Linked DNA regions of Homo sapiens: region 2 is linked to region 1. Evidence: fine-mapped expression QTL. A gene starts in region 1. The other region holds a variant in brackets. All regions are shown on one strand. Distances are from middle to middle. Region 1 holds the start of WFDC6 (WAP four-disulfide core domain 6). Region 2 overlaps WFDC8 (WAP four-disulfide core domain 8).

Evidence for each region. PIP is the estimated chance that this variant, and not a neighbour inherited with it, causes the effect.
Region 2: its variant is the best candidate, but not a certain one, in a credible set for the expression of WFDC6 in lung (GTEx, PIP 0.70).

Annotation. Positions count from the first base shown.
Region 1 is chr20:45,536,667-45,542,045 of GRCh38, reverse strand. It overlaps WFDC6 (WAP four-disulfide core domain 6), which reads left to right and starts at 2,564. Exons shown (of 3, transcript NM_080827.2): 1 at 2,564-2,729; 2 at 3,952-4,082. The coding sequence starts at 2,639. EPPIN-WFDC6 (EPPIN-WFDC6 readthrough) reads left to right here. Exons shown (of 5, transcript NM_001198986.2): 4 at 3,952-4,082; 5 at 4,496-5,379. The coding sequence ends at 4,513. EPPIN (epididymal peptidase inhibitor) reads left to right here. Exons shown (of 4, transcript NM_020398.4): 4 at 1-1,420. It overlaps LOC107987282 (a long non-coding RNA gene), which reads right to left. Exons shown (of 4, transcript XR_001754641.3): 3 at 3,367-3,510; 4 at 1,659-1,971. It also overlaps the pseudogene HSPD1P21.
Region 2 is chr20:45,559,160-45,564,538 of GRCh38, reverse strand. It overlaps WFDC8 (WAP four-disulfide core domain 8), which reads left to right. Exons shown (of 6, transcript NM_130896.3): 2 at 2,320-2,429. It also overlaps the pseudogene RNA5SP485. Among named protein-coding and RNA genes, the nearest start is that of EPPIN-WFDC6, 14 kb to the right of the region's middle. The variant T/C (reference allele first, on the strand shown) is at 2,746.

The sequences.
Region 1 (5,379 bases):
CTCTCAGCATTCCAAGATCTTAGCCCTTCCCAGAACAGAACGCTTGCATCTACCTCCTCTTCCTCCATCTTTGGCTCTTTTGATGCACAATATCCATCCGTTTTGATTTCATCTTTATGTCCCCTTTATCTCCAACTTCTAGAACTCCCAGTTTATACCTGTGTCACTCTCAATTTTTTCCAGTAAAGTACTTGATGTAGTCCTGTGCCTTGAGGCTGAGTGATTGACATCTTTTTGGCACATTACACTTTGCAGAGTAAGGGATCATTGAGGCTTCTGGTGACATCATTCAAGGGAGTGAAGACAATCAGAACTTTGAGAGTTCAGAGTTCCAGGAATATTGTTATTGTTATCTTCCTCTGTTTCTACAAAAGATTGTAAAACCCTTTTTAGGCAAGGGCCCAAGGACAGTGCCTTAGTTTGGATCCTCTAGAAACTAACCCTGGGAAAAGGGCATGGGTGCAGGTAGTTTGTTTGAGAGATTTCCCAGGACATACAAGATGGGGAGTGAGATGAGTAATTCAGGGAAGAGAAGGGAAGAGAGAAGAGTCTATTATGAGCTGGTTACTACTGTGGCTCAATCCTATTGGGGACCTTTTAAAGAATCATGTAAAACAGGCTTACAAATTTTCTTTTTAAAAATATTTTATTTTATTTTACGTTCCGGGATACATGTGCAGGACCTGCAGGTTTGTTACATAGGTAAGCCTGTGCCATGGTGGTTTGCTGCACCTATCAACCCATTACCTGGGTATTAAGCCCCGCATGCATTAGCTATTTATCCTGATGCTTTCCCTCCCCCTGCCCCCTCAACAGTCCACGTGTTCTCATTGTTCATCTCCCACTTGCAAGTGAGAACATGTGGTATTTACTTTTGTTCCTGCGTTACTTTGCTGAGGATAACGGCTTCCAGCTTCATCCATGTCCCTGCAAAGGACGTGATCTCATTTCTTTTTATGGCTGCATAGTATTCCATGGCATATATGTACCACATTTTCTTTATCCAGCCTATCGTTGATGGATATTTGGTTTGATTCCATGTTTTTGCTATTGTAAATAGTGCTGCAGTGAACATACACATGCATGTATCTTTATAAAAGAATGATTTATATTCCTTTGAGTGTATACCCAGTAATGGGATTGCTGGGTCAAATGGTATTTCTGGTTCTAGATCTTTCAGGAATTGGCACACTCTCTTCCACAATGGTTGAACCAATTTACATTCCCAACAGTGTAAAAGCATTCATGTTTCTCCACAGCTTTACCAGCATCTGTTGTTTCTGGACTTTTTAATAATCACCATTCTGACTGGCATGAGATGGTATCTCATTGTGGTTTTGATTTGCATTTCTCTGATGATCACTGGTGTTGAGCTTTTTTTCATATGTTTGTTGGCCGCATAAATGTCTTCTTTTGAGAAGTGTCTGTTCATGTCCTTTGCCCACTTTTCAATGGGGTTGTTTGTTTTTTTTCTTGTAAATTTGTTTAAGTTCCTTGTAGATTCTGGATATCAGACCACAAATTTTCTTAATCTGTCTCCAGTGATGGGAAAGCTAAGCTATTTGTCCACTGATTCCCAACGCCCACTGGATGCCAGGGATACTAAATCCCTCGCTCTTTCAAACTGTTATACTTGCAAGCTATACAAGCTCCCTGGGGGCCAGAGAAAACCCACAGCAGAAAATTAGGGACTGATGCTAGAGGTAGGAGGCTGTCAATGTGCATTGGCTATTATTCGGCCATAAAAAGGAATGAACTTCTCACTCACCACTGATGACATGCCTTGCTGCACACACACCCTGCTGCCACCCTGCAGAAATGCTTCCATTACCCACAGTCCTTTGCCAGATGGAACTGATGCCCAGGTAACTGGCTCCTCACCTCCTTCGGGCTTATACCAAGGATATAAAACTTGGTACAGATGCTCAAGCGTTAATGCTTCAGGGTGTGACTTTTAATCCAATGCTGTAGCTGTGACAACAGGGAAAAACGGAGAACAGAGTTGGAGAAGTCCCAAAGTAATGAAAGAAGTTATTTACTGTTGCAAAATCAAACGACTTAAAGGATAAATGTAACTGATCTTTACATACGAAAGAAGAGAGAGGGAAGTGAAGGGCGGGGAGAAAGAGACTCAGACAGACAGAGACTCCCTGAGAAAAAGACAGGCACAGAGTAAAAGACATACAGATGCACAGAAAAGAGAAGAAACAGAGTGAGAAAAATAAAACATAAGAATAGACATGTCAGGAGAAGAGTGAAATTAGAAAGAAGGAAGAGAGCTAGCATACTGTTAACCTGCAAACTCCCCCTGGGAAATGGAAGACTCTGGAGTTAAACCTCCCCTTCTGCTAAGGGAGCCTGGAAAGCCCAAGACAACATGTGCCCTCTTTCCCTGGTAGACCAGAAAGCCTCAGATTGCTGAGGATTAGGAGCCACCTATCCCCCAGTGTAGGTACCAGGTAGTCCCACTGATGGCCTCAGGGATCTGGTGTTCCTGATCGGGGAGTCTGGCTGGCTTGTCTCCAGGGCTGTCTCTTAAGGTGCTGGGCCACACCGGGGCAGGCAAAGTGCAGATGTAGGAGCTGCTGAGGAGCAGTTCTTAGTTTTGGTGCCATCAACCAGGCCAGTACTTCCTAAAATGGGACTCTCAGGACTTCTGCCAATCCTGGTACCATTCATCCTTTTGGGGGACATCCAGGAACCTGGGCACGCTGAAGGCATCCTTGGCAGTAAGTATTGGGAACTCCGTCCTTGCAATGGGGAAAGGAAACTCAGTGGGGAGGAAGGAACAAAGAATAATTTTGCAGCTGAGAAATTATTTTCTCCACCTCTGCCTGGAATTCCAGGTGGGAAAGAGGGGAGCTATTTGAAGTCTCTTGGTAAGAGACTCCCTTGGTGAATACAGGCATCCAAATCTGTGGCAAGTGACTCCTTGCTGCCATTCCAAAGAGTTCTTCCTGGAGGTGCCTGGACCTAGAGCTCATGAAATGAACTAAGAAGGAGTAGTAAGCCCAAGGAAGTCTCCCACAAGAAAAACAGGCTGCTCCCCACAACACCACCTGTGTCAACTTCCAAATGTTCTCATTGCAGCCCCCACACCCATACCCACAGAGGACCCTGGTCTTTGGGTTAAAGAATGGTCTCCAGAAGTCCCTTGGAATGCTGAAATGTGAAGACTCACAATTAGCAGCTAACTGTACTGGGCACTGAAAATTAGTGGTTGAAAGTGAGCACTCAGGAGCCACACATTGTAGGTTCAAACCTGGCTCCACCCCTGAGTAGCTGTGTGATCTTGGGCAAATTCACATAATCTCCTTATGCTTCCAATTCTTCTGTTTACAAAATGTGAATATTAAGAGTACTTACCCATAGATTTGTAATGAGGATTAAGGAGAAAAGGCAGCTCACAGTAAGTGCTTCATCCATATTACTCATTGTTACGTTACATTGCCCCAGGCAGTTTGACGATGGCTTGTCAAACTGTGTTGCTGGTTAGTCTTCAAAGCAACCCTATGGGCAAATGAGGAAATCAAGGCTCAGAGAGAGTGCCTGGCACACCAAGCGTCTCACAGAATTCAAAAGCCCAGCTATCTGATGCCAGAAATGTTAATCTCAATCATCGAGAGCCACAGCACCTCCTGGGGGAGCAACCAAGCACAGCAAGGCTGAGTGACCAGAACAGTCTTAGAGGAATGCGTCTTTCTCTCAGGAATCTCATAGATGGTGCGGGTAGGGGGTAGGGGTTGGTTTAGGCATCCGATGGTGAGTTGTTATGGGGTTGGGGATGTGAGCAGTGTTGTGAAATTCCTGAGCCCCCTGAGGGCCACTACCTTCTGGGGATAGGTGAAGTGGAAACAAAGTTCTCTAACTCTGGAGGGGTGCCCTGGTCTCGGGGAGGGGGAGCACTGGCTCCTTTAAGGCCTTGAGGGAATATATCTTCCCCTCCCTTAGAGCCGTGTCCCAAAATCAAAGTGGAATGCGAAGTGGAAGAAATAGACCAGTGTACCAAACCCAGAGATTGCCCAGAAAACATGAAGTGTTGCCCGTTCAGCCGTGGAAAGAAATGTTTAGACTTCAGAAAGGTAACTCAGATGCTTCCTAAATTACCCAGTGCCCTCACCTCCTATCTCCACCTGCACTGCACTACCTCTGTCTCCTAGTTCACTGATGGCTGGTCTCTGACCAAGAGTTTAGGTACATCTTCTACTTGACACAAATCTGCCAGTCCTGGACTTGGGAGACATGGATTTTATTTCATTTCTTCCTCTATTTTGGTAAGTGATGTGAACAATGTAGTTTTCCTTTCTGGGCCTCAGTTTCCCTTTCCATAAGACAGGTGTGGATAATGGACCACATGGTCTCTTGGCTACTCTTCAGTGATTCTCGAGATGCCAAGTAGTCACCAAAGTCTCATCAAATGCCAACATTGTGTCAGGTTATATGATAGCTATAAGAGACAGGTATATAATCTGTATTTCCTGGCTTTTTTCTCTAGGCCTCTCTGTCTACATAAATCCAGGATGCCTTCCCTGACCACCTTAGACCGCCTACACTCTTTCTTCTCTGCCCATATTATTGAGCTCTAAAGAAGATCATCAAGGACCATTCGTTCATTCTATTCATTCAACAAATATTGATTGGTGCCCCTGACACCCATGATGGGTTCCACTTGCTCATTGTGGCCAGGAAGGTCAGAAAAGTTTTTCTGGGAAAGAGATCCATGATTTAAGATCTGAAAGATGAGTACTTAGACCAAAAATGGGAAGAAATAGCCTTTCAGGCCAGATAATAGGATGTGCAAAGGCTCTGTGGCAGGAGGCAGGATGTTCAGGTCTAGAAAGGCTAGAAAGCAGAGAGTGAGCAAGAGACAAGAAACAGGAAACTGGTAGTGTATATTCAGGGCAACTTGAATCTGTATTCCCAAGTGGCCATCCTCAAGTTTTGGGGTCAAATAAATGCCCTACTTAATGATATTTTCTGAATCTTGTTACTTTAGGTTGACATACCTTTCAAGACAATAACTAGGTTTTCAGTGCTTTGATAAAACCTCAAATGTGTGGCCTTCCAGCCAGGCATCTGTGGTTTCATATTGTTTAAGCATTTGTTGCATCCCTATGGATTGCAGCTCTCTATAGGTTCGCTGTTGCTGAACCAAGAAATAAGGCATACACAGATTTCTAGAGAAATTGTAATTCTATAACAGATTTTCAGGAGATGAGGAAGGCTGGTATCTTTCAGAGTACAAAGTGATTTTGGAATTGAAAGAATTTCTTTGGGTTAAAGTTTGTCACTGACTTGTGTTCCTGAACCATGAAGCATGAATATGTGGGCTGAGAAATAGTTTCTCTTGATAAATAAACAAGTAACAAATTTTAAAAA
Region 2 (5,379 bases), 22 kb before region 1:
CCACGCCCGGTTAATTTTTTGTATTTTGTTTAGTATAGACGGGATTTCACCGTGTTAGCCAGGATGGTCTCAATCTCCTGACCTCATAATCCGCCCACCTGGGCCTCCCAAAGTGCTGGGATTACAGGCGTGAGCCACCGCACCCAGCCCATGCCCAGGTGGGTCTTGAACTCCTGGGCTCAAGTGATCCTCCTGTCTTGGCCTCTCAAAGTGCTGAGATTACAAACATGAGCCACCGTGCCCAGAACCTAGTGTGTTATTTATATAGCACATTTGTGTCCGTGTATTCCAGGTCTGTCCTAGTATTCCAGGTCTGTCCTAGTATTCCAGGTCTGTCCTAGTTCTTCAGAGCCCCCACTGAGCAACTCTTGCAATTATGCTCATTTGTTACCTATAAGACCTGTGTTTTGTAGTCTCTTGCCCAAACAAACCCCAGTCCAACCAAAATGGATTCATTCTGTGTCAAAGTTGCCAGATTTAGAAAATAAAAATAGAGGATGACCAATTAAATTTGAATGTCAGATAAACATCAAATACTTTTTTAGTAGAACTATGTTCCTTATATTGCATGGGATATACTTATGCTAAAATTATAAATGGACATCCTCTATTATGTTTGGCAATTCTATTAATCTGTGTTTCTCCCCTGCCTCCATCCCACGAGATCTGCTTTCTTCTAACTGACTGCAGGCTAATCTGATTAACTGATTCTCAAGACTGGGTTAATAGATGTTTTCAGGTTAGAGGGTAAAATTTCAAACCCATAGAGTGACTTGATAATAAAAATTTAAAGCACCAGAGGGCCTTTTGGCTAATCTTTTAGGGGAACTAAAGGAATGATTTACACAGTCTCTAACTAGGGAACTCAAAAGCTAAAATGGTAATAGGAACATTTGTTGGCATTCACTATTGCCATTCATTATTTGTTAACTGGCTAAAATACAATAAACACTGATTTACAAGCCACTTGTCATGCTTTACAAAAATAGTTCAAGTAATTCTCATGTCTGTGAGGTAGGTGTTATTATTGTTTCCTTTATGACAAATTGAGGCTCAGTGAAGTGAAGTGACTGAACCCAGGCCACACAGCCGATAAGTGGTGGATTCAGGATGTGAACTCAGGTCTAACTCTGAATGCTACGTTTCCTACCACTCCGTACCACTTCATTAAATCTTCATGCTATCTCATCTTAATCCTCACAATGACAACAAAGCTTCCAGGTTAATTGTATTATTCCCATTTTCCAGATGAGGAAATTGAGGATCCAAGATATGCTGTTATAAGGGATTGAGCGAGGCCCAAAATCAAGATCACTATGTTTGGGGTCATAATTTCCATGACCAGAGAGTATAGGCACTATTGTAAAATTTGAAGAGGATACATGATTAGAACTCCCCCAACAAAAAAGGTTGGGGAGATAAATTGTCACAAGTCTTTACTTTTAGGCAGCCACATGGTATGGCTTCAGGAACTCTGGAAGATACTCTATTCCAAGATACCTTCATAGCTTTCTCAGTATCGGAAGTTCCACCAATACAGATGTATATTTTGGCATAAAGATGTTTTCTCTGTCTCTTGCTTCCTCTTTCTCCCTCTACCCACCTCTTGCATTTTTGAAATGCATGCACTCTAAGAGTTAATACAGTAAAGGATTATTAGTTTTTCACACCTTAAAATAAAAAATACATAAGGATCATGAAGACACATATGGGAAATGGGGGCTTGAGTAGGCGGGGGAAGCTCATCTGTTCATCTGGTTGTCTGGGAGTATCATAAGATCCTAGGCTTGGATAGTCACAGAAGGAATAAAAGGAATTTCTCTGTTAACCCAAGGTCATCTGAGATTGTTCTTGCTTCTGGTGCACCAAGATCCAGTAGAGTGTGCCCAGGCCCTCTGGGAAATCTCATACCATCCATTTCTGTCATCAGTGGAGCAAAGAAAAGATGCTCACTAGTGTCTGGGGTTGCCCCTGGAGTGACTGTGGGCAAACCAGCTCTGCAACTGTTCCAAATAAATCCTTGTGATCATTCAAGTGTGGCCTTTTACCCAGGAACAAGACAATAGGCAAGTGTCTGTGTGGCACAAGGTACAGCACCATGGCAGGGTATGGGGATTGGTCAGGGTCCTGAAACGGAATGTCTTAGACACACCTTAACTCACCATCTGACCTCAGACAGACTCCTTCCCCATGCTGGTGTCAGTCTTCTTACCTGTGAACTAAAGGGACCTGGTGGATCATCTCTAAGGTTCCCCTGCACACACTTTGTGTCTCTCTCTGGATTGTGCTTAACTCCCACCTCTCTTCTCATCCATACAGGCACTTTCCTCTCCATAGCCCCACCTTCTCCTGGAGGAATGTAGCTTTCCTGCTGCTTCTCTCCCTTGCTTTGGAGTGGACTTCTGCAATGCTGACCAAGAAGATCAAACGTGAGTTCAAAAAAGCTGCAGCCATTCTTCCTTAGAAAGCATTATTGGGGATGAGGGTTAGACATGAGGCCAGTGCCAGTGTCAGATGAGGCCCCCTCTACTGTGGATTTGGGGCCACAGAAAGCTACCCCTGCTCACGACCCTGGCCCTCCACATACTTTCCTTACTTGCTCCCCCCAAATTATTTCCCTAACTTTTCCATATTTTTATATATGTAAGGAGACTATATATATAGTTTGCATCTACTAGGGATGATCCCCAGAGATCTGGTCTCATCTGTCTTATGATATCACTCAACACATAATTCTTGGGTGAT[T/C]ACATTCATTCCCACTGTACACACACACACACACACACACACACACACACACACGCAAGTTTAATTGTTTTTTAATTAATAAGTCACTAGGCATGAGCCTGAGGGGAGAGGACCAGTGAGGAGGCTGCTGCAGTAGTTGAGAAGAGACAAGGGGTGAGATCAGGTGCTGATCTGAGGGAGTGGTAGTAAAGAGAGGCAGGAGACAGGGTTTGGAGAGAGGTTTAGGAGACAGAATTGACCCAAGTCCATGAGTGATGGGATACTGGGGTGGCGGAGAGGAAGGAGTGAATCTCTGGATTCTAATAACAAACTGGACCTGTTGATGCCAAATGTCAAGATGCGGAATAGAAAGTAAGGTAGTGCTTGGGCATAAGAAGATAATAGTTCTGTTTTAAATATGTTGGAACAGAGGTGCTTCTGAGATGCCCAGATGGTGTTTTTCCCAGGCAGGTCGAAATAAAAGTCTTTAGTTTGGAATAGAGGATGAGTCTGGAGGAAGAGATGGGAATCATAGTTGGGATCGTGGGAACGAGTGGGATTACCCAGGAAGTATGTGTCAAGTAATGTCAGAAGACAGCTGAGACCAGATCTCTGAGAAGCATCCCCAGTAGATGCAGAGAAACCCATGAGGTATGCTTATACACACAAGTAAGTGGTTAAGAAGAGCCAACAAGAAACGGAGGAGGGTTTTTATTAATAAGTGAGAGTTCAAGCTGACAATGGGGAAAGGAGCTACAACAACTCAAACCCAGTTTGATTTGCCGAACTCTGTCTCTGCCTAAACCTAGAACAATGGTTCCCAAGTAACAGCCTATCTCCTGGAGCCCACTGCCTGCTTTAGGACCACCTGGGGTTCTTTTTAAAAAGTGGAGTCCCAAGGATGCACTTTCTAGAGATTCTGATTCAGCCTAGAGTCTATATTTTCTGAAAGATGCATAGATGATTTTGATGTACACTCCAAATTAGGAACCACATACTCTTCTTAGCTTCAGTCCATTCCTGGAGGGGGTCATTAATGACAAGAAGTATTGTTGGAAAGTACTCAAAGTCTCAGTGGCCAGTCCTCAGGGAAGACGTGGGGCTCCTGAAGTGAGTCCTGGATTGTAAGTCCCAGACTTGCCCCTAATGCATTGTATTATCCTATCTGACCTCATTACTTTTGATCTATGAAATCAGAAGTTTGGTACCAATGATAAATAGAGTTCTTTCCATTCCAAAGTTCTACAGTTCCAAGACTCAGTAGTATCTGAAAGGATCATGCCTCTCTGGCCAGATTCCACTGGAGGGATGCTCAGTTTAGAATCATGGAGACACATTAAGCGCTGTATGAGCTATCCTTTGCTACGTAACAAATTATCTGTGGGTCAGAAGTCTGGCATTGTGCATCTGGGTTCTTTGCTCCGGGTCTTACCAGGCCAAGATTGAAATGTCAGCCAGGGCTGTAGTTCTCATTTGGGATGCACTGTCCTCTCCCAAGCTCCCTGGTTGTAGTAGAGTCATTTCCTTGGAGTTGTAGGACTGAGGCTCCTTTACTGGCTGTCACTTCTAGATGCCACCCTTATTCCTTGGCACTTGGCCTCAACCATCTTCAAAGCTACGAATAGCAAGTTGGATCCTTCTCATCATTTGAATCTCTCTAATCAATTCTTCTCTACCAACCAGAAGAAAACTCTGCTTTTCAAGGACCTAATTGACTAGGTCTGGGCCAGAGATTAGACCTTAAAATTAGAGATAATCTCTAATCTTAAAGTCAACTAACTTGGGTCTTTAATTTTTCTGCAAAATCCCTTCACAGCATTGCCTAGCTTAGTGTTTGATTCAATAATCAGAAGATGGGAATCTTGAGGGTGCAACTTTAGATTCTACCTACCACAAGCACTGAAATCAGGAAGCCATGTCTAGCCTTAAAAAGGAAGGAAGCATGGCCATACCACCCTGAAAATTCCTGATCTTGTCTGATCTCAAAAGGTAAGCAGGATCAGACCTGGTTAGTACTTGGATGGGAGACTGACTGGAAACACTGGGTGCTGTAGTTTTTTTCCCCTTGCCTCTTCTAGTTTTTAGTAAAAAAATAAAAATAAAAATAAAAGGTAGAAAGCAACGCCACATCTGCCAAGGTCTTACCCCAGGCATTATAGACATCACCCCATTTAACTCTTATAATCAGCCTGTAAGGCAGGAATTGTCATTCTCATTTTAAAGATGGAAAATATAACTCAGATGAAGGGAAATACTTTCCCAAGATTATTTAGTTGGTTAGTGTTGGAGCCAGGCTCCCGAGCCAGGTCTGCCTGACTACAATGCTTCTTCCACTCCACTGTTTCTTACTCCTTAGAGGTAAATTAAAAATCATACAATGAGTTCAGATTGGTCTTGAGTTTACCAGGAGTCAAGGGTCAAATCAGCCCTCCTGACCTCTACTTCCATGATGTTCCCACCAGTCTTTACTAATTTCTTTTATCAACTGGAGACAAAGGAATTAAGCATTAAAATATTAGGTTTCAAGAAGAGAGAAAATCTTTTGAATTTAGGGAAAGGGCCTTGGTCCCTTTCTAACCCCTTTCCCTGGTATCCAACATGCTTCTCCTTCAGTTCTTCTTGGACACAAATTCCTGATTCAGATCCATTTGAATG